Homo sapiens: one gene and its partners. The protein of the gene in region 2 interacts with the protein of the main gene of each other region in a biochemical or structural test. Each region holds a gene or a part of one and is shown on either strand. Other genes may lie near its edges. The genes, in order: RALA, FLNA, NRP1 and DCN.

The links.
Region 1: the proteins of FLNA (region 2) and RALA form a complex in vitro, tested with the Homo sapiens proteins (one study listed by BioGRID).
Region 3: the proteins of FLNA (region 2) and NRP1 interact in a biophysical measurement, tested with the Homo sapiens proteins (one study listed by IntAct).
Region 4: the proteins of FLNA (region 2) and DCN form a complex in vitro, tested with the Homo sapiens proteins (one study listed by BioGRID).

What each region holds. Positions count from the first base shown.
Region 1 is NC_000007.14:39,696,110-39,703,801, reverse strand, and holds part of RALA (ras-related protein Ral-A precursor), read right to left. Parts: intron 7,118-7,692; coding exon 6,943-7,117; intron 1-6,942. UniProt on the Homo sapiens protein: Multifunctional GTPase involved in a variety of cellular processes including gene expression, cell migration, cell proliferation, oncogenic transformation and membrane trafficking.
Region 2 is NC_000023.11:154,364,635-154,372,326, forward strand, and holds part of FLNA (filamin-A), read right to left. Parts: intron 6,728-7,692; 5' UTR 6,612-6,727; coding exon 6,239-6,611; intron 3,457-6,238; coding exon 3,208-3,456; intron 3,105-3,207; coding exon 3,007-3,104; intron 2,911-3,006; coding exon 2,763-2,910; intron 2,217-2,762; coding exon 2,098-2,216; intron 2,006-2,097; coding exon 1,928-2,005; intron 1,837-1,927; coding exon 1,674-1,836; intron 1,591-1,673; coding exon 1,390-1,590; intron 853-1,389; coding exon 715-852; intron 626-714; coding exon 502-625; intron 324-501; coding exon 187-323; intron 86-186; coding exon 1-85. UniProt on the Homo sapiens protein: Promotes orthogonal branching of actin filaments and links actin filaments to membrane glycoproteins. Anchors various transmembrane proteins to the actin cytoskeleton and serves as a scaffold for a wide range of cytoplasmic signaling proteins.
Region 3 is NC_000010.11:33,177,518-33,185,209, forward strand, and holds part of NRP1 (neuropilin-1 isoform a precursor), read right to left. Parts: intron 5,232-7,692; coding exon 5,181-5,231; intron 2,849-5,180; coding exon 2,559-2,848; 3' UTR 1-2,558. UniProt on the Homo sapiens protein: Cell-surface receptor involved in the development of the cardiovascular system, in angiogenesis, in the formation of certain neuronal circuits and in organogenesis outside the nervous system. Mediates the chemorepulsant activity of semaphorins.
Region 4 is NC_000012.12:91,179,318-91,187,552, forward strand, and holds the start of DCN (decorin isoform a preproprotein), read right to left. Parts: upstream 3,501-8,235; 5' UTR 3,338-3,500; intron 163-3,337; exon of another isoform or gene 45-162; intron 1-44. UniProt on the Homo sapiens protein: May affect the rate of fibrils formation.

The DNA of each region.
Region 1 (7,692 bases), on a different chromosome or scaffold from region 2:
ATGTAATTTAGGAACCAAGATCTTCAGTGTAAGAGAAAAGATACAAGTACAAAATCAAAGATGTAAACATTTGTAATGTTAAATTTGAATTGGAAATAACAACATGATCACATTTTTTTCTTTTAATAATACCTATTTCCTAGAACTATTCACTGAAAAATGACAACACAATAGCAACAAGCAAATTATGTAACTATGCTGTGGCTGCTAAATATCATTCCTCCTAAACAGAACCTGAGTTCCTTAGATGAATGGCTGATTCCTGATCTGCAGCAAGAAGCATAAAATTTAAGTCAGAAAGCAACGAAACTATCAAAGATGAATGGGCTGAGTCAAACGGACATAGGACCAACATGAAGGAGCATAAACGGTTAAAGGGAAAAAAGTATAAAACACACACCCACACACAAAGTATGCAACAGAACGGAACACAATGATGACATAAAAGCCATGGGTTTTTGCCCCTAGTGGTTGTGATTCTATTTCCCCAGAGACTAGGAATTTCAGAAGACCTCTGTTTCAAGTCTCTGGCTAACTAGCTAGGACAGGAGGTCTCGATTCTGACTAAATGTAATTATTGGAATACTCCCAGTATTGCTTTCTAATGCAGATAAATCACTATGAAAAGGAAACTAGATGAAGGTTTAATTTCTGATTTTATTTTCAATTGAATTTTGTCTGTTTAATTGACACATATTCACAGAGTACACAGTGATGTTTTGAAACATATAACGTACAGTGACTAAGACCAGGGTAATTAGCACATCCATCATCTCAATCATTTATTATTTGTGTTGGGAACATTCAATATCCTCCTTTCAGGTATTTGAAACTATACATTATTGTTAAGTATAGTCATCTACAATAGTATAGTACACCAGAGCTCATTCCTCATATCTAGCTGTAATTCTGTATAATTTAACAAATCTCTACCTATCCCTCCCATTCCAGCCTCTAGTATTCTCTGTTCTATTTTTTACTTCTATGAGATCAACTTTTTCTAAGCTTTTACATATGAATGAGAACATGCAGTGTTTAACTGCCTGTTCCTGGCTTATTTCACTTAATTGTCTCCAGTTCTATCCATATTGCCATGAATGACAGGATTTCATCCTTTTCAATGATTGAATAGTACTCTATAGTGTATATCTATCACATTTTCTTTATCCATTCATCTGTTGTTGGCACTTGGGTTGGTTCTGTATCTTGGCTATTGTGAACACTGCTGTAACAAATAAATGTCATTAATAGGAAAATGGCTGAATTATGGAAAAGTCTAACCATGGAATACTTTGTGGTTTTAAAAAGAATGTGGATACATCTATATGCAGTGACATGGAAGAGCTGTAGGATTTGTCATAAAATTTAAAAAGCGCACCACAGAAATATGCTCTATATATACAGATACAAAATATATTACGTGTGTGTATATATATACACAAATCCTATTAATACAGGAAGAAAAAACAAGCAAATGCAAACTTTCCCTTAGAGATATGTATGACTGCTTTTAACGTCTGGAAAGACACACCCGTGTTAGCACTGGTTACTGAAAGGGAGGGGAAAGGAGTGAACTATGGGAGAAAAATGACTCATTTTTCCTCCTTATGTTTCTATATTATGAATTTTTCTTTATATAAGCATGTATCCATGTATTACTTATACAATGAAAAAACCCAAATATGATATTTTCCAAAAAATACAGTGTATTTCTACCAAAATTCTTCCCTCGACATAAAACTGATTCTCTTGACATAATAAATCACACTGCCCCTTTGGACATCTGTTAATATTTGCTCAACTTCTCTCTATTCTGCCAAAATGTTCCTTAAAATCAAGAGCAACCTTGGAGTCGTGAATTAAGACCCAGAGCATTTAGCTAGAAGGATAATAACAAGGTCACTGAATGAATCCAATGAGTACACAAGTAGGATTGCCCAGATGTTCCTTTAGCCTCGGAGTGATTCCTCTGTGACAAGCATGGCTTCCTGAGACATGCCATGCCCCAGCTCTGGTGGCTATGACACTTTTTCATGACTAGATTTAAAATCTGCATCTTTGAAACTTCCACCTAATGGTCTATTTGGACTCCAGATGAGGATAACGCATGAGCCAATGATCTTATGGAGAGCTAGCATTTGTTCTGTGACAAAGCATGACACTTCACAATTTAATAAAAGGAAATAACACTTGCTATTCCTGAAAATTTGTGATCAGGCTTCTAGTAGTGGATGACATAAGAAATGGGAGATACACTAGCTATTCCAACCATTGTTTTGTTTTGTTTTTGAGATAGGGTCTCACTCCCATTACCCAGGCTGGAGGGTAGTGGTTATGATCTCGGCTCACTGCAGCCTCCACCTCCCAGGCTCAAGCAATCCTCCTGTCTCAGCCTCCCAAGTAACTGTGACTACAGACATTCGCCACCACACCTGGCTAGTTTTTGTATTTTTTGTAGAGATAGGCTTTTGCCATGTTGCCCGGGCTGGTCTCAAACTCCTGGGCTCAAGTAATCTGCCTGCCTCGGCCTACCAGAGTGCAGGGATTATAGGTGTGGTGGCACCTGGCCCCAACCATTGTTTTGAGTAAAATATTGAAGAAAGAATGTGAGCATGTGAGCGCCAGAGTTGGCCAGACCCAGAAGCTGCAGATGCCACCACGAACCCCGTGACCTTGAGCCAGTTACGTAATCTCCCCACACCGCAGCTTCCTTGTCTAAAAAGTGAGCATCAGAAGAGTATCTACGCCTCACACAATTAAGGATTAAATGGTTGGTACTTACCACAGTGCCTGGCTCTTATAAACACAAATAAATATTAGCTTTTCTGATTATTAGATTATTTCCTCAGGAAAACAACCACAAACACAAGTATAACCTAATTCTGGAAATTGAATAGTTGCTGCAAATGACTTTTATGTAGCCACTGAGGTACTTTATCTGGTAATCACTCCGCAGGATGTAGCAGTACATGAAATTATAGTCTTCAGTATGGATTTGCACCTCACTTTACAAGCAGCCTCGTTTAATGTAATTCTGTTTTGGACAGGTGACCACCGACTGCAGACTGTATTAACTGAAACTGGCCACAGCAATGTTTCCTATGTGCTTTTCCAGAATCCTGCCACTTTTCATCAAGAGCTGAAGTCTATTCCCCTTCCTTCTCAACCTAGGTGAGACTTTGTGACTATCTCCAACCTGTAGAATGAGGTAGAAATAATGCTGCATAACTTCAGAGACTATGTCATAAAAGGCCGTATGGTTTCTGCCTGGTTCTTTTTCTCTTGTGACACTTGCCCTTGGAGACTCTGCCCACTGTGCTGTGAGGAAGCCTAAACTAGCACACATGGAAAAGGCCACATGGAGGAGCCCACCTGGAGAGGAACTGAGGCATCCTTGGATAATGGCCAGCATCATCTGGCTGAGCCAGACATGTGCGAACAAGCCTTCAGAACCTAAGTTTAGGTATTTCCAGTGCCTAGACTTGAAGCTTTCAGCTGAGGCAGCAGACACTGTAGAGCAGAGCCAAGCCATTTCCACTGTGCCCTGTTCAAATTCTTGGCCACAGAATGTATAAGCAGAATAAATGACTGTTTTACCCATAAAGGTTCTGGGGTGTACTTTGTTATACAGCCATAGTAACTAAAACGGCCTTATACCTTTATTTTATTTTTTATTTTTTGAAAAAGTAACATAGTCGTACCTCAGTATCTATGGGGGATTGGTTCCAGAATGCCCGTGGATCCCAAAATCTCTACCTACTCAAGTCCCGCAGCTGGCCCTGCAGAACACATGGATGCAAAAAGCCAGCCCTCCGCATATGCAGGTTTCACATCCTGCTGTATTCTCTGTCTGCATTTGGTTGTGGATGCAGAGCCCACCGACATGGAGGCAGACTGCATCTGTGAAAAAAAAATCTGCACAGCTCAAATCTGTGTTGTTTGAGGGCCAAGTGTCCATGAATATGGCAAAAAGTTCACAAGGGTATTTACAGTGAAAAAAGCATAAACTGTGGCTTAATTCTCTGGAGGCAACCACAGGTACCAGAGTCTTACATATCCTTATGATGTGTACATAGATAATGTGTATGTATGTGTGTTTAAAACACATGGCAGCAAGCTACAGACACCACTCTGTACTTTGTTTCACTTACTTTATAATTGAAGATCATCTGATATCAGCACATTTAGTTCTATCCTCATTTCTTTTTAATGGTTGGGCAAAACTCCATTATTTAAACCAGTCCATTACTGAACACTTGGATATTTCCAGTCTTTTGCTTCTAAAAATAATGCTTCACTGACTACCACTGAACATACACGTATACGTGAGTGCATAATTTGTTCTGTATAATAACATTTTTAGGCCGGGCGTGGTGGCTCACGCCTGTAATCCCAGCACTTTGGGAGGCCGAGGCGGGTGGATCATGAGGTCAGGAGATCAAGACCATCCTGGCTAACAAGGTGAAACCCCGTCTCTACTAAAAATACAAAAAATTAGCCGGGCGCGGTGGCGGGCGCCTGTAGTCCCAGCTACTCGGGAGGCTGAGGCAGGAGAATGGCGTGAACCCGGGAAGCAGAGCTTGCAGTGAGCCGAGATTGCGCCACTGCAGTCCGCAGTCCGGCCTGGGCGACAGAGCGAGACTCCGTCTCAAAAAAAAAAAAAAAAAAAAAAAAAAAAAATAACATTTTTAGCACTTAAATTGCTGGGTCATAATTCTGATGGGTATCACAAAACTGCCCTTCCACCAACATATGAGAGGTTCCTGTTTTTCTATACTCTTGCTAACAGTATATTCTATTCTCAACCTCTTTGCTTTTTTTCTCCCAAAGTGACGGGTAAAAAAAGGACATTCCACTATATTTTAAAGTTGTACTTCCCTTTTTATAAGTGAGACCGAGCCTCTCTTCCAGTTTAAAGGCCATTTGTGTTTCCTTTCTACGACATGCCAGTTGCTGTTTTTGGGCCATTTTCCCTAGGCTTTTGTCCTGTAAGAGCTGTGCTAATACAGACACCATACTTCCCAGGGCCTCTGATGCCAACAGATGATCACCACAAGGACTGTTACAATATAGCTTTCTATCTTGGATTGCCAGTGTCTGCATCTCTTCCCCACTCCCCTTAGGTTCAAATAGTTTTTATAGTGTGTTCTACAACCTACTCGAAACATCGATTAGAAAAGTATATATATGCTATGAGAATGTTCAACGTTGCCTTTTAAAACCTCAAACACCCTCAATCTTAACATATATTTTCATTAGTATTTTAAAAATATTTGCCATACAAATTGTCTCTTCAAATCTATAATTTTCTAATGACTTAGAAATGGCAGGCACAGGCTGGGCATTTTACATATGTGATTTCATTTCATCTTTACAATAATCCTATGAAGCAGGTATTCTTGTTCCCATTTCCAAATGGAAGCTAACTGAAATACCCAAGCCCTAGTTACTGTGTTCAGAAACCATGGTTCCCAGGAAACTATGATAGGGCATGCTATGGACTGAATGCTTGTGTCACCCCAAAATTCATATACTGAAACCCGAATTCCTTATGTGATGGCAATAAGAGATGGGGCCTTTGGGTCGTAATTACGTCACTAGGGTAGGGTTGTCATAATGGAATTAGTATCCTAAGAAGAATCAGGAGAGCTATCTCTCTCTCTCTGTCATGTGAGGATGCAGCAGGAAGGTATAAGGAAATCCAGCAAATCAGGAAGAAAGCCCTCTCCAGAATCATTTTGTCTAAGACCTTGATCTTGGACTCGCCAGCCTCCAGAACTGTGAGAAATAACTTTGTTATTTAAGCAAAACACACATACACACACATACACACACACACACACACACACACACTTGCCCTAGTCCTAACCTTAGAAAAAATTCGTATCCTGAATAGAATCCTGTAGTACTCACTTTGTACAGATATCTTAGACCTAAAGGAATCTGACAATGTCTTAAAAAGTTAAGAAGCTTAAGACAGCAACGACACTGTCTTAAGACCTACAGCAAAATAACAGAACAAATCTCAAACTTTTTTTTTAACCTAGTACTTTCTGGATCAGGGTTATAAATCTACAAGCACATGCAGCACTTGCTAGAATCATAAATTCTTAGGCCCCATTCCAGACCAAATGAATCCAAATCTCTAGGGGTAAGACCCAAGAATGTGTGTTTATCAAGATTTACAGGCAGTTCTTTTGCCTATTGGAGCTTGAGAGGCACACTATAGAGCCTAGATACTTGCAGGCTGAAGAAAGACCCCACTTGGAGGCCTTTAAGATTCTGTGCTACCTCAGCCCAGTGAGCAGTCTTTCTAGATACTGGAGCTGGTCTAGGGCAGTGGGATGAAATGTACTTGCAGGTGTTCCACATCTGGTCTTCAGGAAGGGCCACTCTGAACAAAGCGAGAAGACAAGAAAGGAGGGCAGAGTGTTTACTTTCCTTTCTTTCTCTTTCAGGAGAAAACAAAGGTTGAGGGTGGGGAGTGGAGAGTGGCAGGAGAGATTTTAAAACGCTCTTATCTGGGGGCTTCTTCATCTTGGGAGGTACCCTTATTTTTAAGAACTTAAGTGGGGTTGGGTAGATGTCAGGTCAGAGGTAAGAACGGTTTAGTGCTGGAATCTTGGGACTCACACGATTCCTTCTAAATTATCCAAAGACTCAATAGGATAAGGGGGGAAAAAAGTCAGGAATGCCATCAGTGCTTTAAAAAGAAAAAAAGTACATTTAGCTGTAGTGTCTCATGTTTTAATGTCTCTTGGGAAGCTAAGGACAAGGTGAACTAAAATTCCTAACATGTATCTGAGTATTCAGGGATGATAAAAATCAACAAGGATTAAACCTCTATTTGAAAGTTTCATAGACTCTCCAGACAAAATGGAGCCAAGTTAAAGCAAACCAACCTATTTTAACATGATGCAGTAGTAAAGAGTCACGTGTTACCTTGTCAACATTAGCTCGTGTTTTAGCAGATGTTTCCACGTAGTTAACATTCCACTGCTCAGCTCTGTTTTTTGCCTCTTCTACAGAAACCTGTCTTTTATCTTCTAAATCTGATTTGTTACCAACCAGTAGAAATGGAACATTCTCATCTTCTTTTACTCTTAAAATCTGCTCCCTGGATAAGAGAAAATGAAAAAGAAATATTAACATTATAAGGATAGCACAGAAAGTTCTTGTTTGCCCCATACCTATTTTTCCCTATTGTTAACATCTACTACTGTGGTACACAAATCACAATTAATGAACCAATATCGATACAGTATTAGCAACTAAGGTCCAAACTTTATTCAAATGTGCTTGCTTTTTGCCTGACATCCTTTTTCTGTTCCAGGATCCCATCCAGGTTGCCACATGACATTTAGTTTCGTCATGTCTCTTTAGCCTTGAGTTGGCCATGGTAATTCTCAGACTTTCCTTGTTTTTGATGACCTTAATAGTTTTGAGGACTGCTGGCTGGCAGTTTGTACAATGTCTCTCAATTGGGATTTGTCAGATGTTTTCCTCATGATTAAAGTAGGGTTATTGGTTCTTGGGAGGAAGATTTAGAAAGTGCTATTCTTATTGCATCATATCAAGGGTCCCACCAATTGTTTTTCAAAACCCAAATGTGCCAGAAATTACTGGAAGTCAGACCTTGAGCATAGATTTTGCATTGAGAGGTAAGTTATCCACTGTGAAAGTGTCATCAAT
Region 2 (7,692 bases):
TGCGGCCAGTAGCGCACATCACAGGAGCCGTCGCCCTTGTCGTCACATTCGATCTTAGCCTGCGATGGCCCTTCCACCGAGAAGCCTGACAACAGCCACCAGTCCCCTCAGTGCCCTGGAGCCTCAGGGTGGGCCGTCCTTGCCATCGTCTGTCCCCAGGTGCCCATGCTGCAGCCTCCAACTTACCCAGCGTGCCCACGTCGTCCCCGATAGCCTCCACCACAAAGTCTGCTGACTTGCCAACGACGCCGCCCTCCAGCCCAGGGCCCCAGGCCCGTACCTTCTGATTGCCACACTCGGTGCCCACCTTCACTTCGAAGGGACTGCAAATGCGAGAGCCACACAGGGAACACCGAGGATCACCACATGAGCCAGCGTGGGCCCCACTGTGGCGGCCAGGCAGGAAGAGCCCATGTGGCCCCTCATCATCAGGTGGGGAGGCAGAAGGAAGAGAAGAGGCAGAGTGTGCAGAGCTGGGAGAGGGATGCCTGGGGGCCTCACCTGCGCCCGATGTTCTGACCACCCCACGTGATGGTGACGATATAGGTTCCAGGGACCATGGGGTAATACTCGAAGCCATACACGCCATCCCCCAGGTCCTTCTGCTTCACGCGCTCCTCTCCCTCTGCCAAGACAAGGAGGGCCTCAGGCCTGCCCAGCAGTGAACCCGGGGGCTGCCGCCACCCATCCTGGCCTGGCTCCAGGCCAACTTACTGGGGCCCTTCACGGTGACCTTCAGCTCCCCACTGCCAGCGCCCTTTGTGTACACCTTGAAGTCAGCTGTCTCCTTCACCCGCACACCCTTGGGCTGGAGGCCCCGGCCAACCGCCCGGCAGGCACTCGGGTTACAGGCTGCAGGCAGAGGGGCCAGCTGAGCACCAGCAGCTCGGCTGGGCGACCCCTCCCTTGCCTCCCACAGGGCCGGGCTGTCAGGATTGGTGGGTCCCTCAGAGCTTGGCTGGAGGGGGACATGCAAGACAGAACTGGAAGGGACTGTGACCCCAGGAACTGTGGCCTGGGCCAGGACATGGCAGGCCTCCTCCCACCTGCTCCACACCAGCCCAGAGCCCCCCACCCTCCCCCTTCCAAGAAGAAGACAGATCCAAGTACCGTTGACCCTGTGGGCAGAGCAGAGAGCAGCAGGTTTCTAGACAGCTGGAGCGAGCTCTTCCGAAGGTGAAAGCGTGAGGAGAGAGATGGAGAGGGGCGAGGAGAGGAGAGGAGGAAGGGCCCCAGCAGGGGAGGAAAAACAGCATGTGCCCAGACAGTAGAAGCTCAAAGAGTAGGGGCCCCGGGGCGGGCTGCAGCGGGACTGGCCCAGGGGGTCCCCCTCCTGTGGGAGGCCCAGACTGCAGTGCCACAGCAGAGGGCAGTCAGGGCCGGGCCTACCTTGGCCAACAGTGACAGTGTAGGGGCTGCGAGGGATGGGCACGCCGGCAAACGTGACGTGCACGGTGTGGACGCCCTCCATGGTGGGCTGGTAGCTGCAGCGGTATGTGCTGTCGCCCCGGGCCTCCAGCTGAGGCTCTACCGTGCCCTTCTGTCCCATGGGGTCCTGGATCACAACCTCGACCTCGCCCGTGCCAGCTCCTGCCACGAGGCACCTGCTCAGCTCCCAGGCCCCAGTGCGGCTCTCCCCACAGACCAGCTGGGCCTTGGCAGCCTCCCCTCACCTGCCGTAAAGATCTCAAAGTAGGTGGTCTTGTTGGCGATGTTGCCACTGGGCTCCAGGCCGGGACCTTGGGCTGTCACTTTGCTGGCGTCACCCTGTGACTTATCCACGTACACCTCGAAGGGGCTCTTGGCGATGTGCTGGCCAGCAAAGAGCACAGTAACCTGTCCCCAGAAGGGTGGGCCGTGAGGGTAGGGCTGGGGGCCTCCAGCCACTGCCTGAGGTCACAAGCCTCCCCCCTGGCCAAGGGCTCACCTTATGAGTCCCCGTCACCTCGGGGACGTACCAGACGGAGAAGGTGCGGTTCTTGTCGTTATTGGCGGTCACTTTTGCCTGCAGTGGGAAGGAGCCTGTGAGCCTTTGCTAAGAGCAGCCCCACTGAAAGGGAGCGCTGCGGGGCCTCTGCTGCCAGCAGCTGGCCCTACCTCCTCCTGGTGTCCGGCCGGGTCCTCCACGTACACCAGCACCTCTCCCTGGCCAGCACTTCTGGTCTCCACAGTGAACTCTGCCCGCTTCTTCACCATGTTGCCTGTGGGCTCGATGCCTGGCAGGGGAAGGCGAGCCAACCACGGGCCAGCTGTTAAGGCCACAGCCTCACCCCTCCACCCTTCAGCCCTCCCTGCTGGCCCCTAAGTCAGGCACATTCCAAACTGGGCAAGTTCATTCAGTGTGAGCTGTGGCACAGAGCCTGGCCTCGGGACCCAGCTGTGCTCTCGCTGCTGGGACAGGCCCAGCCTGTTTTCTGGAACATTCATTCTCACCGCACTGGGCCCTTGTTCCTGTGTGAGCCTTGACTGGGTTTTAGGTCCCTGTTACTGAGACCTGGTTCATCTCCATTTATAATAAAGACCGCTGGATGCTACCTCCCCGAGGACCCCACGCAGCAGGCTTCTGTGACTGGAGGAACCTATTAGCATTCTCTTGTCGTTTTCACTAGTCCCAAAAACCCACTCTTGTCTGACTCTTGGGTGGCTTGATCACCTAGCCGCCATGTAACCCAAGACCCCTGGGGACCGCCACGTTTAGATGGGACACTGTCTTATGGGGAAGACGTTGGCACACGGGTGCACCCCTGGTGGGGCTCCCTCACCTGGCCCGTAGGCACGGGCTTTCTTCGGGTTCAGTTTGGGCCGCAAGGGAGCCCCTGGCTTCAGCTTGGCCTTGGGGAACTGGGACAGGTAGGTCATGACAGAGTGCTCGTCCACGTTGGGGTCCACAATCTCCTCGGGGGTGATCACCTGTCACAGGCAGAAAACAGGAGCCATCGGGCCTCCGAGTCTCTCCCAACTGCCGATCCGGTCCCCTACAGCTGTAGCCAGGCCGGGCGGGTGTACCTGGGGGATGCCCAGCCAGTCATCCGCCTGCTGCATGGCCTCTCGCGCATTGGTAACGGGCTTGCTGGCGTCCCAAGAGTCCCAGTCAGGACACAGGCCTGTGGCGCAAGGGAGGCTGTGAGTCTGGGGGCCGCAGAACCCCCTCAAGGGCCACCCATGGGTGACCCCAGCCCAGTCTCTCCTGCCTCTGCGCCCCCTCACCCGGGGCACAGCTGTCCACCAGGGCGCCCAGGGCCCGGCCGCTCTGCCAGTCCCGGCTGAAGTTGGTGATGGGCAGCTGCGGCAGCTTGTTCTGGATCCAGCCCAGGAGCCTCTGCTTGGGGGTCTGCTTCTTGGCCTCCTCATCCTCCTCCTCGTCCCACATGGGCATGGAGATGGAGTAGTGCAGGATCAGGGTCCAGATGAGGCCCAGGATCAGCTTCAGGTTCCCGTCCACGATGGCCTTGCTGTCTGTGAGTAGAAGAGTGGCCACGCTGGGCACACGGCTGTGCGGGAGGGGCCGATCCCAGGCTTTGGGGTCAGGGTCTGGCAGCACGGGGTAGCAGGGGCCAAGGAGGAGGTAGACACCCCCTCTTGGCCAGTGGTAGGATGTGGATGAGGCCCTCTCTGCCCAGGGTCCCAGGGGGTGTTCAGAGGTGAAGGAGACTTTGGGGTGAGGGCAGATACACACAGACACACACACACGATGCCAGCAGGGTATGATTACTGCCAGAAGCCCTGGGCCCAGAGGAAGGGCAGAGGGCAGACCCAGCCTGCAGATGGGCAGCTCTGGAGAACAGCTGGACAGTGTCCACAGCTGCCAGAGCAGGGGTCCGCCACACACCTCAGGGGCCTATGGGGAACCAGGAGGAGGAGGCTGACTCCAGCTGGCCCAGAATCCAGGGCCCATGACCTGGAGTGGGGCTGGGGCTGAGGAAGAGGAAGGTGGGTGGCCCTGGGTGGTTGGGAAATACAACTGTTGTTCCAGGGTGGGTGGGGTGAGGCAGGGGAAGTGGGGGAGTTGGGCAAACGCCCTTTGGGTGAGGGATTGTGACCCCCGCCACCACCCCCACTTCCTCTACCACCTCGAAGACTCAAGCTTGGAGTTGGGAGGCCACAGGCCTAGCCAGGGGAGGGGCCCAGAGCCCAAAGGAACCAGCAGTTGGGCCACATGGCCCTGACTCACTGGGGCCCATCGGGAGATGCCGGGGTGGCAGCAGGAGACACTGGGAACCCCCTTGCCACCCACTGCCTGACCCACTTGCCACCTAACGGGCCTCTGGGCCTCGGCAGGCTCGCCACAGGGGAAGTGGTTAGGGCGGGTCCCTGACACCCCCCATCACCATGGCAACCCTGCTGGGCTCTGGGCCCCACCCAAGGCTACTTCTGGGTCTCAGGCTCAAGGCAGGATGGCTCATCTTTAGAAGCCCTGTCAGCCTCCCCCATAATCAGACAAAATACTTCTCTGGTGAGTCAACTAGGGGGCGGGCCTATGAGGAGGGGCTGGGCTGTCCATGGCAGCTGCTTCCCAGCCCAGCAGGCAGCACCTGGAGGGCCAGGTGAGCCGCTCAGAGTGGCCTCCCCAGTTCCCAGGTTGGTCCTGGCCCCACGAGGCTGCCTTTCACTCTCCCCAAATGGCAGCAGGGAGGGGGACTCGGAGAGGACCAAGGGTGCAGGGCCAGGGAACAAGGCCAGCCAGGGCTTCCCATCAGGCCCCCACCCCAGTCCAGCCTCAGACCCCTCAACGACCCCCACACGGGGAGCAACCAGGCCCACCAGGTCCATGTTAGGCCAGCCTACTCCGTCCCCATCCCCCTCCCAAAAGAGAGAGGGAAGGACCAGGGCCCAGGGCTGGGAGACTGTCTGGCTGGATGGCCCCGCCCCATCCCACCCCCCTTTCCCCAGCCCCTGGGCCAGCCAACCCCTCCCTCCCCTAATCACTGCTGCTTTCCAACATTTTTTTGCCTTATATGGCAAAGCTCTGGGAACTAGGCCTGCTCCAGCCAGCTCACAAGGAGGAGGGGAGCTGGGAGGAGGGAGGAGACCCCCCCTAAAGAGCTGGGGTGTGGCCCGCCTCCCCACATCCGGTCGCCCCCCCTACCATCCAGGACTGAGATGACTCAGCTTGGCTAGACTGAGGCTGGGACTTGTGGGGGTGGGCCTGCCCCTCGCCTCAACTGGCATTCCAAAGAAAGAACTTTGGTTCTTGGGATCTGCCCTCTGAGTGGCTGGGGGAACCCAAGTCTTGGTCCCTCACTTTCTTGGGTTCAGCAAGGGCCATTCCAGGGCTGCAGGGTAACTGGAAGGCCTCTCAATTCTGAAGAAGAGAAGACTCATCATCCCTCTCCTCTCCCTGTTCCACATCACCCCCGAGTCACCCATTCTGGGGCCTGCCCTCTCATGCAGCCCCTATCTTGAGAACGAATTGGGCTGCTGCAGCAGGCCTGGTCAATGCCAGCCTCTCCAGTCCAGTGACACAGACACTGGGCTGGCACAATGCACGCTGGAGCATCTACCAACCAACTCCTGCGTGCTACACGCAGAAAAGCAAGGCCTACATGGAAGCAAGAGTTTGGCCCAAGATGAAGAGAAAAGTTGGCGTCCAAGTAGTCTACAAGCCAGGTCTCTCAGTCAACCACGCCCAACTCACCCCGGGTGCAGTTTTGCTAACTATGCTTCTTTCTGGCCCCCAGGTTGCCTGTGTGTGTGTGGGGGGGTAGATCTAAACTGGTGGTTGGAGCCATCTCCGATGGGCGACCCATCCTCCAGGGACACAAAGAGCCCAGAGCCCCAGACAATGGGACGCACGAGCTCCAACCCACACTTCAGAACCAACGGGCCTCTGAAGGCCAGAGGGCCCTCTCTAAACAGCTGTGGGGGGAGAGCCCGGGCCTCCTCCTCCTCGGGGACGGGGCGCAGGGCCAGGAGCCTGCCCAGTGCCCGACCCCCCAGGCCCACTCCCACCGCGAGCACAGCCGCGGAGGCGCGGCCTGCGGAGGATGTGAGTTCAGCCTGGGCGCCGGCCAGCCGGGGCGCAGCGGGCGGGGGCGCGTAGCGGTTCGCACGCCCGGCCGGCCAGCCAGCCAGCCCGCGCGCCTTTGTTCTGCAGGCCCGCGTGGAGCAGAGCAGCCGGAGGCCTCGGGAGTTGCGCTGCGGCCCGGAAGGGGGTGGTTTGGAGGGGTCCGCCCGGGGAGATGGAAGGACGCACGGAGTCCCCGCCCCCGCCCGCCCGGCGCTTCGGGGCGTCCCTCACCGATGGACACCAGTTTGATGCTCTCGCGGTCCAGGAACTCGAGCGCCACCGACACGTTCTCAAGCTGCATTTGGCGGAAAGTGGGCCGCTGGTTGTGCTTGCGGTGCATCTTCTTCTGGCTGAGCACCTCCAACAGCGCGATAAGCCGCAGCCCGTCGCTCAGGTCCGTCTGCAGGTTGGCGATGCGCTTGCTCACGCACTTCAGGTGCTCGTTGCACCAGCGCGTGAAAGTGTTCTGCTGGATCTTCTTCCACGGCGCGTCCTCCGCCAGGTCCTTCTCGGTGGCCGGCATCTCGGCGTCCCGCGTGTCGACGCCGCCGCCCGGAGCCGCGCCTGCTGCGCTCTGGCCCGCCCGAGAGTGGGAGCTACTCATTTTGAGGCGCGAGAAGCCGGGGGGGCGGTGCTGCAGCCTCGGCGAGGGGACGGCCCTTTAATTAAAGTCGCAGGCACCTAGGCGCGCGGGAGGCGAGGCAGGGAGCAGAGGTTGCGCTGCGGAGAGAGCGAGCCCTTTAAATGCGGGAGGAGGGCGGGGCCAGAGGGCGGGCCTCCTGCGGGGAGGGGCCGTGGGGTGGGGCTTCGAGGGCGCGCCTGCCCCACCCCGCCCCGCCCGTTGGAATGCCCCCACTAGGCCCCCGGGTTCGGCTGATCAGACGCGAAACCCGGGCTCCAGGGTGGGTCGCTGGGCAGTGGGGTGGGCAAGGATGCTCCCAGCCCCGCAGCCTCGCGTTGGCGCTGCAGGAAACGCGCCCTAGAGCGAGGAAAGGCTGAGCAGTGTCTGGCGCGGGACTGCTTGGCCTGCAGCCGGCGCGCCTTACAAGGGACTTTCCTTCCCCAGGGCCCCTGCGGGGGGTGGGGTGGCTCTCTTCCCTAAGTCACTTGGGCTCTGCCCCGTCCCTGCACATCCCTACCCCCCGCCGTCATCCCCCTTCCCCGGGCCCCCAGGGCCTAGGGTTCCCCGGCGGCATCCCCGTCCGCCGGCCCGGCAGCGGCGGGAAGGGGCCAACCCTAAGAGCGAACCCCTGGAGAGCGGCAGCCCCGGACCAGGCACTGCCGAGGGCGCTTTGTGTGCTCATCACCTGGGAAGCGGCTGCAGGGCAAGGCCTGCGCCTACGCGGTCCCCGCAGACCCCCTGCCACGGGCCCGCCTTCCCAGTCCGTAGGGCCCTCGCCCGCGCACCTGTGCCCGCTGCTTCCCACCGCCTCCCTCTCTGCTTCCCTCCACCCGGGAGGATATGGGGCACTGGGCCAGGAGGCCGCCGGCACTCCAGGAGCAAGCAGCCTTCGAAGGGGTCCGGGCATGCCCACGGGCACGCCAGTGGGCGCGGGCAGAGGGCGCCGTGCGATGCATGCAGAGACGTGTGCCCGCCTAACCCTTCATGCCAGTTCACCCGGGGCACTGGGGGGAGCTGAAGCGGGGGGTCCTCTCCTGTCGGAAAGTCCCCTCAGCCCAGCGTG
Region 3 (7,692 bases), on a different chromosome or scaffold from region 2:
TTCAACTGTTTCTTTGGAATGTAGTAGTCATAGTTTGGAATTTAAGTTACAGTTCAGTTCTATGTGGTTTTTATGCTACTCAGTGTCTGAGAATACAAATGTCATTTAAAGTTAAGGCTTCGCTGTTCATTTTGAAACAACAATTTACAAGTGTCATATTGTCATAGAAAATAATAATTTCTGTAAAAAAAATCTGCACAAAATCTTATGATGGTACAAAACATGAAGCAATAATATACCAGTAAAATGAAAACATTTTACTACAGAAAGTTTTATAGATTTCCATAAAGAAAAAATATGTTATTTTACACCTTTAAAAATTACAAAACAATCTAAAACAATATAAACTGAACATTTTGTAACACTGCCTTTACAAATTAATAACTTTATAAACATATAATTTTTAAATATATTTATCAGTGCAAGATACTTTAAATTTTAAAGTTGCAGTATCATTTTTCCTTGGCTGAGGACAACTTTAAGTCTGTTGCCTTTAAAAACAACAAACGAGTGTTTCTTAGTGCTTTCCTTCTGGTAGGATTATATCAACTAAATGAATGTCTCTGGGGACAAAAAACTATTCTTCTTTCATGGTGATCAATATTTTCCTGGAAACAAAAGGCATTCTCAATCCAATTTAACTAAGATGAATGGACTGTCTCGTCTATGATGCAAATGTGACTCCCAACAAATGTCTTTGAGTGAGACGTCTAGCAATGTGGGAAGGAAGATCTAAAAAATCTCATGTCCAACATGGCATGATAAAAATCCACCAAAACCAACCAAAGCTTCTTTGGGTTAATTCATAGGCTGCCTGGTAAGATATTTGCTTCCCTGTGCTGTTAGAGGCTTAGATGTTGCCAGCCCTAAGGCAGGCTTATTCTTTGTGAGCCGCTGGAAGTTTCTAGAAGCATTCATTTAAGTCTATTTTTTCAAGGTTGCTGTTATGAATTTTTAAAACATTTGTTTGACTTTATGTGTTTTTCCCCCTCTTATCTTAAAATACTTGACCCCCAGGCATCAGGATTTATAGTTTCATTCTTAAATTAACTGTTCTTCCTTCCACTTCCCTTGTGTGACTCAGTAGCAAAATAAGAAAGTTCTCTTGGGTCATTTTTGCATATTTGGATAGAAAAATCTCATGCTTTTGGATTTGGAAGATTTTATCCAGTTCTTCCTTTGGGTCTCACTTGAAAGCCAATTTGTATTATTTCTTTCCTCAACTTATCACTATTTCTACTAAATGCCAACATTTCTATCAAAGGTCATTTTGAATAGAATAGATAAGGAAAAAAGATACTGTCACTTTAACCAGTTAACAAGAAAACCAAAGTTAGACTTTGGAGGGCAAAGTTAGGAATTTCCCTTATTTATTTATTTTTAAACATAAAGTCTAGTAAAATCGTTTGCCATTCCCAGCAGGTTAAAGCTGCAAGTTTCTTTCCTGGACAATGGCAAATCCTCCAATTCTAAGAGAGAAAAAAGACAGAGAGATAGGAGAGAGAAAGAGAAGAGAGTTTACATTTGAAAATACATTCCATATGAAAGAACAATAAGAGAGAATATTGTAGCTTTATACAAAAGGGTCAAGAAACATGAAATTGAACTACAGAAAAAGCAGAACAATTAAGCCACGTTGCCAAATCTTCAGAGCCCTTGCCTGCCCGGAGGGGCTGGCATCTCACACGAAAATAAACTTTCTTCTTAGTCAGTGGGCCACCAGAGTTTGATTAAAGAGCAGGGCTTTCACCAGCAAGAAGCAGAGTGGGTCGTTAATGTAACACAATGAACCAGTACAAACAAAAAGGCACTTGAGAGGACATAGACTAGCCAGTGCCAAGGATTTGTGTTTTTGTTGTTGCGGTTGTCAGCAGTATACCCAGTGGCCAGCCGTGTTCAGGGATGGCACCGTTTTCTGTATGGAGTTCACAAGCACGAGGTTTAGTACAACACCGGAAAAACAGCAAGAAAACTGGACAGTATTGCTTCGTAAACAGAGCTGACACACTACACCAGTACTGAGGCTACAGTACTTTAAAAAGAAAACAGCCTAATCCTTCTTTGCCTATGCACGACGCGGGCAATTATACACAAGTACAACTTCAGGAGTCCACTGAAATGCGGTGATTCTAGTATATTCTGGGCACTGGGTTTCAGGTAGCATGTCCATCCAAAGGGCCACACGGAATACGCTTGGTGCCAGCATCTTGGATTTCGCTCAGTTTCCAAAAAGAATCCACAAAGGGGAGAGGAGAGAGAGAGAGAGGGGCAGGAGGGGTCGAAATGAATGATTATGTCAATCATACTTGGTCTCAACACCAGCATCTGATTATTCAAATGAAACCAACAGGAAAAAAGCTGACTGCACATGAGTCCGATGGTGAACACAGCTCCTTGTCCATGTCTGTCGGCCATACTCATTGAAGCTCCTGAGAAAAGCCTGGCTCAGTGGTCATCAACACACTTCCCAGCCTGTATAGTGAAAGATCAACAGCTCCCCAGCTCACTCCCGTCCTTCCACTTCCGTCCTTTGACTGTCTTTTCATCTCTGTCTGCCTTCATGCCTCCGAATAAGTACTCTGTGTATTCAGTTTGTCTTTTTTCAACTTCACACCATCCACAAGTTCAAAGTTATAGTTCTCCAGGGCAGACAAGTTTCTTTCTGACATCCCATTATGCCAACAGGCACAGTACAGCACGACCCCACAGACAGCCCCCAGGAGGACCCCCAGGGCACTCATGGCTATGATGGTGATGAGGATGGGGTCTAAGGTCTTCAACACATTGCCTGGCTTCCTGGAGATGTTCTTGTCACCTTCTCCTTCACCTTCGTATCCTGGCGTGCTCCCTATGGAAAAAAACAATATTGTCTCCGTGAGCACCGCCAACAGACCAGATGAAAGCAGACAGAAAAATAGAAAGGAACGAAACAGGAGCAAATCACACACCCCAGTTTTGCCTGTCATATCTGACTCATTGTTGGGAACAGAAGTGTGGGAGGTGGTAGAGGGGAGTGGGCGCTGGGGCTTCTGACAGACTGCTTAGCACGTGGAAACAACCCATTCTGGATCAACTGGGAGGTTCCTTGCTCATCTAACTCAGATTTCATGCAGCCCCATCTGTCCTAGATTGTAATCTGTGTTTACAGTCCTTGGCTAGATAGGTGATCATTAAGTTTTGCAAAATGCTTAGTCACACATTAGTCTAGCAAGGGGATTTTACCATTCCCAGTGCATGTACCTAACCCCAAAACAGGCACAAGAAAAACCTTCATGGCTGCCCTTCTACGTGGTGCTGTTTCCAGGATCTGGCATGGTTTATGCATGTGTTTGTTCTCCCATATGGAAAATCTTCAAGTGAAACGAATTTTGCCCAAAGTCTACAGTAGTTTCAGTAAAGAAGGAGTGATTTTTTAGAACAAGAGAATGCTTGCTGCTGACATGTAAACAGAGTGTGGCTCAAATCGAGAAACCATGTCTGTCATGCCAAATAGAAGACATTTACTAATAATCAGCATCTTTGCAGCCCTGGTAGTTTAACTGGAGACAGTTGCACTGCTCTGCAGCTCAGTCACTGGGGACTTGTTTTCTTTGGAGTGGAACAGGAGAAATTGTTAACATGGGAGCTTTGAGCCTAATTACCTGGTACTAGAAACGGGATGAAAATGTTAACGCACAATATGCCTGGGGTTTACTTAATGGTGTTCTGATCAACAAAGATTCCAATCAAAGAAAACTAAAAATATGAGATGCAAATCCCTAACCAAGAGAAAACAAGCCTTGGGGCATATTAATACTCTCTCCCTTGATGAAATATTGTTTTGAAACAACCTCTAATAAAGTTTACATCTCTGTGTGGACTTGGTAATGTGTTCATATTACTAACAGCAAGGTGCAATATTTATTTGTCTCTATGAAGTCCACGGCTGGCCATAGAGTAGGATCCCATTTCTAAGGGCAACAGATGCTGACATGCATTGATGATAAGGGTGCAGCACCATCCACACAGCAGCTGTGAGTGATGGTGGAGCAAGTGTCCAACAGCCCACAATGCTGGCTGGGAGATCTGGAAACTTCTGGGAATAGACTAATACCAGGCAAGGCCTAACTCTGATCAAAGGTCTTGCATTTGATCACAAAGCAGCGTTCAGCAAAAACACACATTTATAGTTCATCAGGCTAAAGTGTGAGGCTACCACCTAATTAGCTATGCTACTTAAGTTTCAGTCTCACTATCTGTAAAATGGGGACAAATACAACCCCTAGAGCTGCTGTGAGGATTAAATAAGATAAGGTATGTAGGACGGGTGCAGTGGCTCACGCCTGTAATCCCAGCACTTTAGGAGGCTGAGGCCAGGGAATTGCTTAAGCTAAGGAATTCAAGACCAGCCTGGGCAACATGGTGAAACTCCACCTTACAAAAGACAAAAAAATAAGTTGAGTGTGGTGGTGTGGGCCTGTAGTCTGCTCGGAAGGTTGAGGCAGGAAAATCGCTTGAACCTGGCAGGTGGAGGCTGCAGTGAGCTGAGATCACGCCACTGCACTCCAAGCCTGGGTGACAGAGACAGACTCTGTCTCAAGAAAAAAAGAAAAGAAAAAGATCAGGTAAGTAAAGTGCTCAGAACATACTAACTCTTCAATAAATCCTTCTTATCATCATCATCATCATCACAAAACCAAGGTTCTAGTAGAGGAAGATGGGAAAAGATGAATCAAACACAATGGATTATCTCAGAAATTGGGCTCTGGTCTCTTAAAGATCCTAGCTGGATATCAACAAACAGAAGAATTTCGGTTGGTTTCAAATAACTGTGTATGGAAATAGTCTTCACTAATTTTCTGTCTTTGTAGTGATAAACTGAGTGTGTTTGAGCTGATTATCCTTTATGTTCCACCTCTAGACTGGGCAGGGAAGGGCCAGGGTGAGCACACTTCCCAGGCTCAACCAGGTGTACAAGCAGGACCCGTCACCGAGGCTCCCCAAGTCTTATGGGCAGCTCGGAAGTGGGTACTCTGTGAGCACAATCCGATCCACAGCACCAACCCAGGGCCATGGGCATAGATGTTTTTTATTTGAACTTTTTGACATACCAGTGTATTAGAGTTCCACAAAGTTTCTTCATAAACACAATGAAAGCCATAGTAAAATTTTTTAAAAATTGGTCAGCAAGACAAATTTACCTGTTTCATCAATTTTAATTTCTGGGTTCTTTTTATCCAGGTCTGCTGGTTCTGACAAGTCAAACAAAATTGAAAGAGATATTTGAACTGCCATCAAAATATAATGCACCAAACTACACAAACCTTTAGGTACATGCACACACACACACACACACACACACACACGTGTCTACTGGGCTCCTTTTGGATTTTTTAGTTCAATCAGAAATCACCAAACAGATCAATAAAGAGGCAATGTTAAATGACCGGGAAATTGGTAATGTGACATCACAACACTGCCTTTAAGGTGCCATATCTAAATCCAGGTAGCACTGCTGCTAGCAGAATCTGTTGTTTTAGGAGACAAGGGTGGGCTGGGTATGCTGGCTCGTGCCTATAATTCCAGCACTTTGAGAGGGCAAGGCAGGAGAACCACATTAGGCTAGGAGTTTAGGACCAGCCTGGGCAACATAGTGAGATCCCATCTCTACAAAAATAAAAAAATTAGCTTTCCAGCTGCTTAGGAGGCTGAGGCGGAAGGAGAGCTTGTGCCCAGGAGATGGAGTTTACAGTGAGCCATGATGGTGCCACTGCACTCCACCCTGGGTGACGGAAGCAAGAGCCTGTCTCAAAAAAGCAAAAACAACAACAACAAATTTAAAAAAAAAAAAAAAGAAGAGAAGGGGGAAGAGACATGGTTTTGGCATCTGAAATGTGGAAAAAAATCTGGTGAATATAGGTTCTACTGAAGTAGATTCGTACATATGGTGACCATCCTATAGTTTGTAGATAACTGCTTCCTAAATTTAGTGTGCGTTAGTTTGGCTTCTCGAATAGTATGCCAACTCTTTGAGGCAAGAGACTGTGCCCTGTGTATTACAAAAATAGATAAATACATAAAATAGCTATTGAAGAAGTAGAGTTCCAGTATTCCTGTGGTACTAAGTACAGAGCAGGAATTTTTGAGTGCTTTGTCCACTGCTGTATTCCAGCATTTACAACAGTGTCTAGCACATCATAGGTGCTTTAATAGATATTTGTTCTATGTATGAATGAATGAAAGATTAATAAATAGTTGATAATCTCATAGCATCCACACCCAGATGTTCAAGGATGCATATTTGATGAATCATTGTACAATTGTCTTACACATATTTTTATTGGTAGCAGCATAAACAAATAAACAAAGTGGTTTAATGGAGCCGTAGTTGTGAATTTCCCACTACAATGTCTGGCAGCAACTACAGCTAAATGGACAAATCACAAGAAAAGAAAAAGTCCCATAGAATTGTCTCAACTATGTGCTTTCTTTTCTTTTCTCCCTTCCTTCCTTCCTTCTTTTTTCTTTTTTTTGAAATGGGGTCTTGCTCTGTGGCCTAGGCTGGAGTGCAATGGTATGACCTTGGCTCACTGCAACTTCCGCCTCCTGGGTTCAAGCAATTCTCCTGCCTCAGCCTTCCGAGTAGCTGGGATTACTACAGCTGCGTGCCACCACGCCCAGCTAATTTTTGTATTTTTTAGTAGAGATGGGGTTTTGCCATGTTGGCCAGGCTGGTCCTAAACTCCTGATCTCAAATGATCCTCCTGCCTCGGCCTCCCAAAGTGCTGGGATGACAGACGTGAGCCACTGCACCCGGCTCAGCCATGTACTTTCACTGGAGCATCCGCATGCTGCTTTGCATATGGTATGTAGTCAGTTAGAACTTGTTGAACCGAATTGAATTTCGTTAGAACTTGTTGAACTGAATTTAATTTCGTTTCTTTGTTTTAGTCTGTGGAGTTTGTTCTCACATCCCAAAACATCACCATCATCACTCTCACTTTGGAATGGAGAAGTGAAGAAATCACAGACACTGTGTTACTACATGAAATACACATTTTTACAGCAGTGTAGATATGGATGTGGGTAATTTGTAAAGGAGTTGCAACTAAACTATTAAGCCTTATCATTCTTGTGAAGATTTGCTAAATAGTGCAGCACTAAGCAGATTCCCTTTAATAGTATGAAGAAGCAAGCCTTTATTCATTGCTCCTTTCTTTTTGCCCAATTTCTTCGATGGATCCTATCAAATTATTGCCGCTTTAGGGATTATATATATTCAATATATTATATAATAAAAGCTTTGTAAGTTGCTGAAGTGACCAAAACCCCCATTACAGCCAACAGACCTCCTTTGTCTTAAATTGGCCCAATAGGCTTATCCCATTTTGTTATAATTAACATCCTATTATATAATGATGTATAACAAAAGTTTCAATGTAGCAAATGGAGCTGAAGACTAATTACTGTGCTATTACACTGCCATTAGTAATGCTATTTGTAATTATATATCAAGAACTAGGGAATATGAATTGGTTTTCTATGTCTTACATCCACCTAGTACAAGACCCATAAAGACCAACTCTGAAATACTAGGCCAAGTCTCTGAATCTCATTGAAGTCCTTTAAGTCATTTCAGATATTTTAAAAGTCAGAAACATCTACTTGTGATAAAGCAAAGAATTATGGCTTCTATGGTTCATTAACAATGCA
Region 4 (8,235 bases), on a different chromosome or scaffold from region 2:
CTGAACCCTGACAATCAAAGCTACTTGCCATGTAGAATACCGACCTTGCAAGAGAGTTGTAAAGATTAAATGAGATAGTGGGCTTCTCTTCTGTGTCCCCTGGCTCATCCAGGCAAGATGCTGCTTTCTCCCTCTTCTCTGCTCCCAAAGCACGTTGCTCTTACCTCTTTTAAAGAACTTATCACATTATATTGCAATTTGTTTTGCGTGCTTGGTCTGTCCCTCACTAGACGATGTACTCCTTCAGGGCGTGTCTTATTATTCCTTGTTCTGTACCCGGGCCTTGCACAATATTTTGCACACAAATGACTCAATTGACCATCACTTTATTGACAAGACGATTTATTCCATTTGTTCCAAGCAATCAGTCTGATTTTTTAAAACACAAAATTAGCTTTTTTTCAGTATCGAATTTCTGATATAAAAAAAGCAGATTGAAAACCTCAACTTGGTATAAGCAAGATCGGCTTTAAAAAATAAATCAATTTCCTAGTTTCTCAAACATTATGTTTAATAAGCTAATAAACACATATGGAAAATTCTGATTTTTATGTGATGTATATATGATCTCATTTTGCTAACAGGGCATTTTGTAAAAAAACAAGTATTGTTTTGATAAATGTATTCCATATTTATCCATTCATTCCACAAGCACGAATCTATGTTGTTAAATCAACTGAAGTGCACTAAATAAATCTGAGTGACAAAATCGTAATAAATCTGAATAACAAAAGTACTTGATTATATAGCAGCAAAGTCATTTGGGAGATGAAATATTTTTTAAATTGCATTGAAACCATTCTGATATCTCCAAAACATAGTAGATATTTAGTCCCATCATAGCAGATATTTAGTCCCATCATCTCTACCTTGAATTGTACACTTAGACGAATCCATATTAAAGCTGTACGTTCGTAAGTAGAATCTTACAGCTGTTTTGAGTCATTATCCAATTGTAGCATATTAAAAAAAAGAAGAAAGAAAGAAGGAAGGAAGAAAGAAAGAAAGAAGGAAGAAAGAAAAGGAAAGAAAGAAAGAGAAAAAGAAAGAAAGGAAGAAAGTGAAAGAAAGAGAGAGAGAGAGAGAAAGAAAGAAGAGAAGAGAAAAGAAAGATCTTTGTATGATCTAACCTTAAGGTATCTTCTGGGAATTTTTGCCTAGATTCTCTAGAGAAGAAACAAATGTTTTTCAGTTTCTTACATGTTTGTTCTTAGTTTATATTTACTACTGATATGTGTCTAAGGCAGCACATGTTGAATACAGGCTTGTGGCTTTTCATTTAACAAAATATCATAAAGATTATTATTCACACTGCCACTTTAAGTTCAACATTAAGCTTCTTCTAGCAGCCCACTCTCATTCAGTTACTGAGTATCCCTTTAAGAGAAGACTTTTGTTTTGGCAGCCTGTTCCTTTGGATTGTATCTGAGGGAGTGGTTTTGTATCTGTTTCCCATTAAAAATGCAATGTTTATGGTTTACCACAAGCTTGCTAGCCTTGCATATTTAATGTCTTACAAGTTTAAAAGAAAAATGAAGCAAAGTCATTGCAGATTTAATAAATAGCAACGACAGTTAATGCAGATGTCACTTTGAAATCTTTTCTCCAGAGCAGAACATGCCTGGTTGTTTCACTAACAACCCACAAAAAGAAAATGTTGAGTATTAGCTGAGAGAAATAGTATTATAATTTATGTTTGTTTACTCCTGTTAAAATGGTACAAATTCTCCAAACAATATTCTTTTTGATTGAAGCTGAATATAGACAGGCAGCTTATAACTTCAATCACCGACCTTTATTTCATTTTCATTTGCTCGTGTGTGTGTGTGTGTGAGAGAGAGAGAATGTATGTGTGTGTGTTCATGTGTGTGTGACAGAGAGAGAGTGTATGTGTGTGTGTGCATTTAACCCTGACTGTACTGTGAAAAAATAATTGCATGTCCAGAAACTTTGTGCAAAATCTTCCATAAAATCATCTGTTTTAAATTAGTGTCATGGTACTTCAAGACCCAGCATCTTAAAACATTTAATGTGGGCTGTCAATACTGATAATTCCTTTCGTCATTTCCTTCTTTCCTTAATTAATCAGAAATATAAAGAGCAAAGAGCAGCTGTCCAAGTAGTAACCAAAGAGATTGTTATTGAGATGATATGCTGTTTAAATTATACTGAAACTGTTTTAAGTAGTCTAAAAATGCATGACAATGTCCAAGATGCTAATTACTAATGTAATATCACTACTCCACTGAAGCTAGTTGCCATAGTTTACAAATGTTTTACCAAAAATAATAATTTCTGGTTCCTAAAACTAGTTAAGCCCATTAAATGAAGTATGTCATCCAGATCAACATTTGCATTATGTTATCTATGCCTCTGGTGTCACTTTCAAAGTCAAAATTTAACCCTCAAGAGATAAGTGAAGCTATAAATGCAAAACAAAATTAAAATCCTACAGCACTAGATGATTAAAAACTTCAATTATAATATATGTAATTTTAAAATAAAGAATAAAGGCGGCATTTATCCACAAACAAGGGTTACTATAGGAGGCATTTGGCTCTTTTCTGGTTAGAAACAGCAACAGGAAAAAAAAAAGCCACAGGTATTTACATCACTGGGAGCCCACTTAATCAGTGGTCACTGTGTTACCCTGTTTTAAAATTAGAAAATTAACCCACATCCTCATTTTATAGTGAATGTATCTTAAAATTTCACTTGCAGTGAAGATACTGACTGGGACACTTTACATTTAAGAAATTATACAGCGTTTTTAGTATCTTAGGCATTTAATAACATAAATATTTTCAATGTTTATTTTCACTTCTCTGGTGATAATTTCTGTTCATTTCTGGGGTTGAAGAAATATACATTAGGTATTTTCAGCTAATCACCAGAGTTCAGTTCTTCTGGGCTTTTAAAAGTCCTTAAAGCAATCAAAAATTCAGGAGAAAAATACATTTTTTAAATATATAGGTCAATTACAGATATGCTACTTCAGAATACTTTTCGGTTACCATCTCTTGAAGAGCTAAACATTCATTAATACAAACACAAAAACATTAATATAGAGAGTCATGGTGTTAGGTTACAGTTTTTTAAGAAGCATCTTTGCAAAAACAGAAGAGAAAGAAATAAAACAATGCATTCAATCATTTTATCAAATATTTAACTTCTGTTTTCAAATAATACTTGTTTAAAATGTTGCATAAAAACTATAAAAGTTTAACAGTTTTTTTTTTCCTTTTCTTTTTCTCACCAAATAATCCCTTTTGCTCGCAACTTGACCGAAGTTTTATTAGTCTGTAGCAGAGTTCAGGACAATTATTGAAAACCATACCTTTTAATCCGGGAATTTGCCACAGGAGCCCTCAAAGCTGAGATGTAATTACACTAAATATTCAGCCCAAGTAAAAGAGTTTGCAGGTGTGGAAAGGAGGAGGGGGTAGGTGCTGCTCTGTGACTAGGTTGAAAACCTCCTGCTTCTACTCCATAGCACAGTTAAAAAATAAGGTTTCCCTCAATGAACACAATCCGGCTGACACCCACATTAGATCATATGGTAATGATATGTCTCTTGTATTGTAGCCAGAAACTTTATCGGCCTTTTTTTTCCTCCCATTTGCTTTATTCTTTTTGCATCTGCTTAAGATTCTAAACTGCTTATGCAGTATAGTGGAGCAACTTGATTTGAAATTTGTCTTATTGTAGATTCATTTCCCTAAGATATTGTAACTAAAGGGTTTGTTTCCCCACCCCCCATCTCATTTCATTCTCCACCCTTTCTAGCCTTGTTTACAAGTAGCATTTATTATACTTCCAAAATGACATTTTTTTCTTGCTTTTGGGATGTGTAAGTCCAGAAAAATGGAATGAAATTAATCTTGTAGTTGTTTTAAATGTGGACTGCAAAAATAAATGAGTAGCCTTATGTGAAACTACTCATTCGGATTCCTACTTGCCTTGGAATGTTTGTGTAAATTCAAGCACTATGCTGTGGAGTTTTTCTGTATATTTTGGACATATTTCTAAAGTGTCCTGAAAGAAAGTCATGGTTTTATATGAAAAGTATGTCATCTATCACTTTCATTAATCATAGTTTAAAATCTTTCTCCCTGTCCACCAGTTTTTAAATAAAATACATAGATAACCTGTAGTTGATCACAACATAGTTTCATCCTCTATATATGAAAAATTTGATTTTCATAGATTATACTTTTATGTAAACTAGAACTTTGAAAAGGCAATAGAGTCTATGTGTCTTTCCAAATTTCAGTAAATGAAAAGAAAAACAAGTGCAACTACAAGGAAAGGTATTTATTTAGCCACTGGAAATCTTTTTTGAGCTTTTATAATTCCCTTGCTGGATGCTGTTAGTTGTCTCTGTGTAGGTCTCTGTGTTTTGACTTGTATCATTATGCTCTGGCCCCTAGGCTGTTACCAGGTGGAAACTGGAAATCAACAGTTTGAAACATGAGATGATCCCCCTCCCATCCTCCAGCCTCCTTCCTTCCCTCCTCCAGCCATCAAAGTATATTCTTCCACAGTAAATATTCTTTTTCCTCAAAAAAACTTAGAGAAATTAAATTCTCAAGTGGTATCTAAGGAGGGGGAGGCGTGTTACCACGTTATAGTTTGCCTTATTTCCTAAGCCCAGCCTCTCAGATAAACAATTTACCCTACTCTGCATCTCCTTAACATTTAATAACCACATATCTAGTTATTCTGATAGTTTAGACAAAGGCAAGCACTATTGTCCCTGGACATTGGTGCAAAAGTCCATGATCCCCTTTACTTGGAATTTATTAATTTCCTTTCTGAACTCTCCTTATATGGCATTTATCTCTTTTTGATGACATATAATCACTCCTGCCTCATATTATAATTATTTATGTACGTGTCTTACTCCAAGGGAGGAATGACATTGTGTTCATGTTTGTAGAATCCCTGCACCCAGAATAGCCATGGTATATACTAAGTTACCAAGATACATTTGCTAAATTAGTAAAGACAATCAAATGATTGGCTATGGACCGTACCCGGACTGGTGTTTTGCCCCAATCCTGGCTTACTGTTTATCAAAACTTAACCCTACTAAAGTGTATATGACAAATTATGGCCATCATTACAAGACAGAGAGAGAGAAAAGGAAGTATTAAAGAAAAAGTAGAAGAAGAAAAATGAGGAGGAGGAGAAAAAAAGACATAATGCCTTTTTATGTAGATAATTTTACTTTTATAAAAGCAGAACCATTATGGTTAAGATTTAGATCTTGTTCCTTCCCCCCGATAGTAAGCTATATGAACTCAGGCAACTTGCTTAACCTCTCTGAATTTCAGTTTCCATATCTGAAAAATGGATACAAATTCTTACCTAACTCATAGTGTTGGAGTGGAGATTAAATAAGGCAATATATATAAAACACTTAACTCAGAACTTAATCCTTATAAGTGAAAATCTCTGTAAATGCAAGCTTTTATTATGTCTTGACATATTTCAAAACAATCCTTTGAGTTAGACAAGATAAGTCATATTTACTATTTCTGTTTTACAAATGAGAAAATTGAAGCCCAGTGACTTGCCCAAGTTCACAGAGCTGGCAAGAAACAAAGCAGAAACTAATATCCAGGTCTTCTCATGCCTAATCCACTTTTCATTACTAAACTATACTAAACTATAATGTATCTTAAGAAAGAGGAAGCAAATTCTTACATATAGAAAAGTAATTATCAAAGTTTTGAGATAACATCTTTTCAGACTATTTTACAAACCATGACCAAGTTGCAATGCTTTTAAAACTTTATTTAATTTGTTCAGGAACAAATAAAAATTTTCTTTTTGTTGTTGTTGTTTGGAAAGAAACTCACCTCCAAAATCTCAAGCATTTTACCAAACATCATCATATTTAAAAGCTGCATCTTTAATCACAAGTTACATCTATCGTCATACTCATTTTTCAGTAGAAGAAACTATGTCCCAACAAAGTCATACGCAGTTAAGTCACCAAGAGGTCATGACACTATGACCAGAAACCAGGTCTCTTGCAATCCAACATGAAATGGAACCATTTTAAGACTAGAAACAGCACTGTGCACAGATTGCTTAAAGTCATTCTGGCTTGGAATGTTTGGGGTAGGATTCCCTGAATCCCTGGCTGACATATAGATATGTGAAATATTCCAATTCAGAGCACATCCCACATCTACTGTTAAACTACTTAAACTTTGATTTCTACTGACAACCCACTAGCTAACAGGGTTAACTGTATTCTGCACATTGTCGAAGTTCATTTCAGGGCCATTCTCTCTCATTGACATCACATACAAAGTATTTAATTGTACCTGCCCATTAAGGATATGAAGAATGCCAGAGCTTAGAAAGGTCTCCTTCTGACACCCCTTTACTTTCTAAGAGGTCTAGAGGCAAGTGATTATCTTCACAATCCTGATGTGACTGGTTTGTCTGTAGACTGACTCTGCAAAGTCAGATCTGGGTCTGGTGTGAATTGTCTGGCTCTGTAGTTGCCACTGTAGACAGAGTTCTTCCCTAGCCAAGAAAGATGACTAGCGTGGAACTGAGGGCACTTTGAATACAGAATAGCTTGAAAGAAAATTTGGTGTAGACAACTTTTACCTTGGCTATCTTCCCATGCCTCTATTCCTCCATCCCTTACCATTGTGTTTGGTGTCCTGGTACCTTGTACAAGTAACTTAACCTCTTTGTTCTCCAGGTTTTTAACCTATACAATGTGAGTAGCCACAGTGGTATCCCCTTCATGAGTTTATAGTGAGGTTCAAAGAAGTTTAATACATAAAACATTTAGAACTGTGCCTGACACATCTCAAGCAACACTTGTTGCTTCCGCTGCTGCTTCTCTTGTGTTTTTTGTTATTACAAACTTTACCTTGGACACTCCAGTACAATAACCAGACTGCACATCTTTTATAGTCCAGTGGATTTTCTGCCTAACAACAGAAGAAATCAGCTAAGCTATGATATAGTTTGGAGCTAGATAAGCTTTCGTTTAAGCCTTGACTTTGTGTTGTTACATAACAGCCTGGCTTTCTTTATGCATAACATTTTATTGGGCTCCAAGTCCAGCTGAAATCCATTCATGGACTTTATAAGGAAACAGAGACTCCAGGTTAAGAATTTCTACTCTGAGCAGTAAAGTAGAAATGGGAATAGAGACAGGGAAAGGATAAGTAATGAATTAAAATAGATTAAAAAGTATCAAGGAGATATTCAGTTCCTTAATTTCCTGACTTTTCTTGAATGCTCTGGGGCATCTCTTTTGTCAGTTGTAATTAATTAAAAGATTAATTATTATTTCCATAATATTGATTAGTTTGTACTTGGACAGTAAATCAACACTTATTGAATATCCATTAGTCTGCACAAGGTACATACCTCTCTGTTAAATACAAGGAAATTTACAATAACTCATCAATCAATTAATCAAAAAATATAGACTGAGGAACCACTGTGGGAGGAAGTGTTATACCAGGCCCCATGGAAGATACCAAGAAATACAAAGTACGATGTGAAGGGCATAGCCTCAAGGGAAATATGTTGCATAAGGAGATATGGCATAAACTATAGATTTGTATAATAATATTTTAGCTTTAGCATACCAGAAAACTTATAATGTATAATTCCCGGCCAAAGTAAAGTATGATGTAATTAAAATAATTGTCTTAGAAAGTCAGAGAAGGGATTGAGGGATGGATCACTTTACATTTGAGTGGTTAGGTAAGTGTTTATAATGAACAAGGTACAATTTGAGCTAAATCCTGAGGGATGAAAAGAATATGCATGGAGAGAAAAGAAAGAAATGGCTTTTTATGTTGGCAAAATGACACTAACAAACCTTGGCAATGGGAAAGCAGAAGACAATAAATAAATCAATGTGGCTTAAGCAGATACTTTCTTTCAAAGAAGCCTTGAGTTCCTTTATTTCTTTGAACATTCAGTAACTCTCATGGTATCTGACATGTCAAAGTCACACAATAAATTAATGTCCCATGTTTATGGAAATAACTAAAAGGAGATAATGAAATAAATGAGGGTAAGGTCTAACTGTGGAAGGACTTGAAATTCTCCCATGGAGCACTTATACATTTATTCATTCATTTGTTCATCAAATATTAATTTGTTGATGAATATGTGCCAATTATTATGCTTGAATCTAGATGTTATCAAAGGTAATTGAATGAGGTAATAACATGATCCAATTAT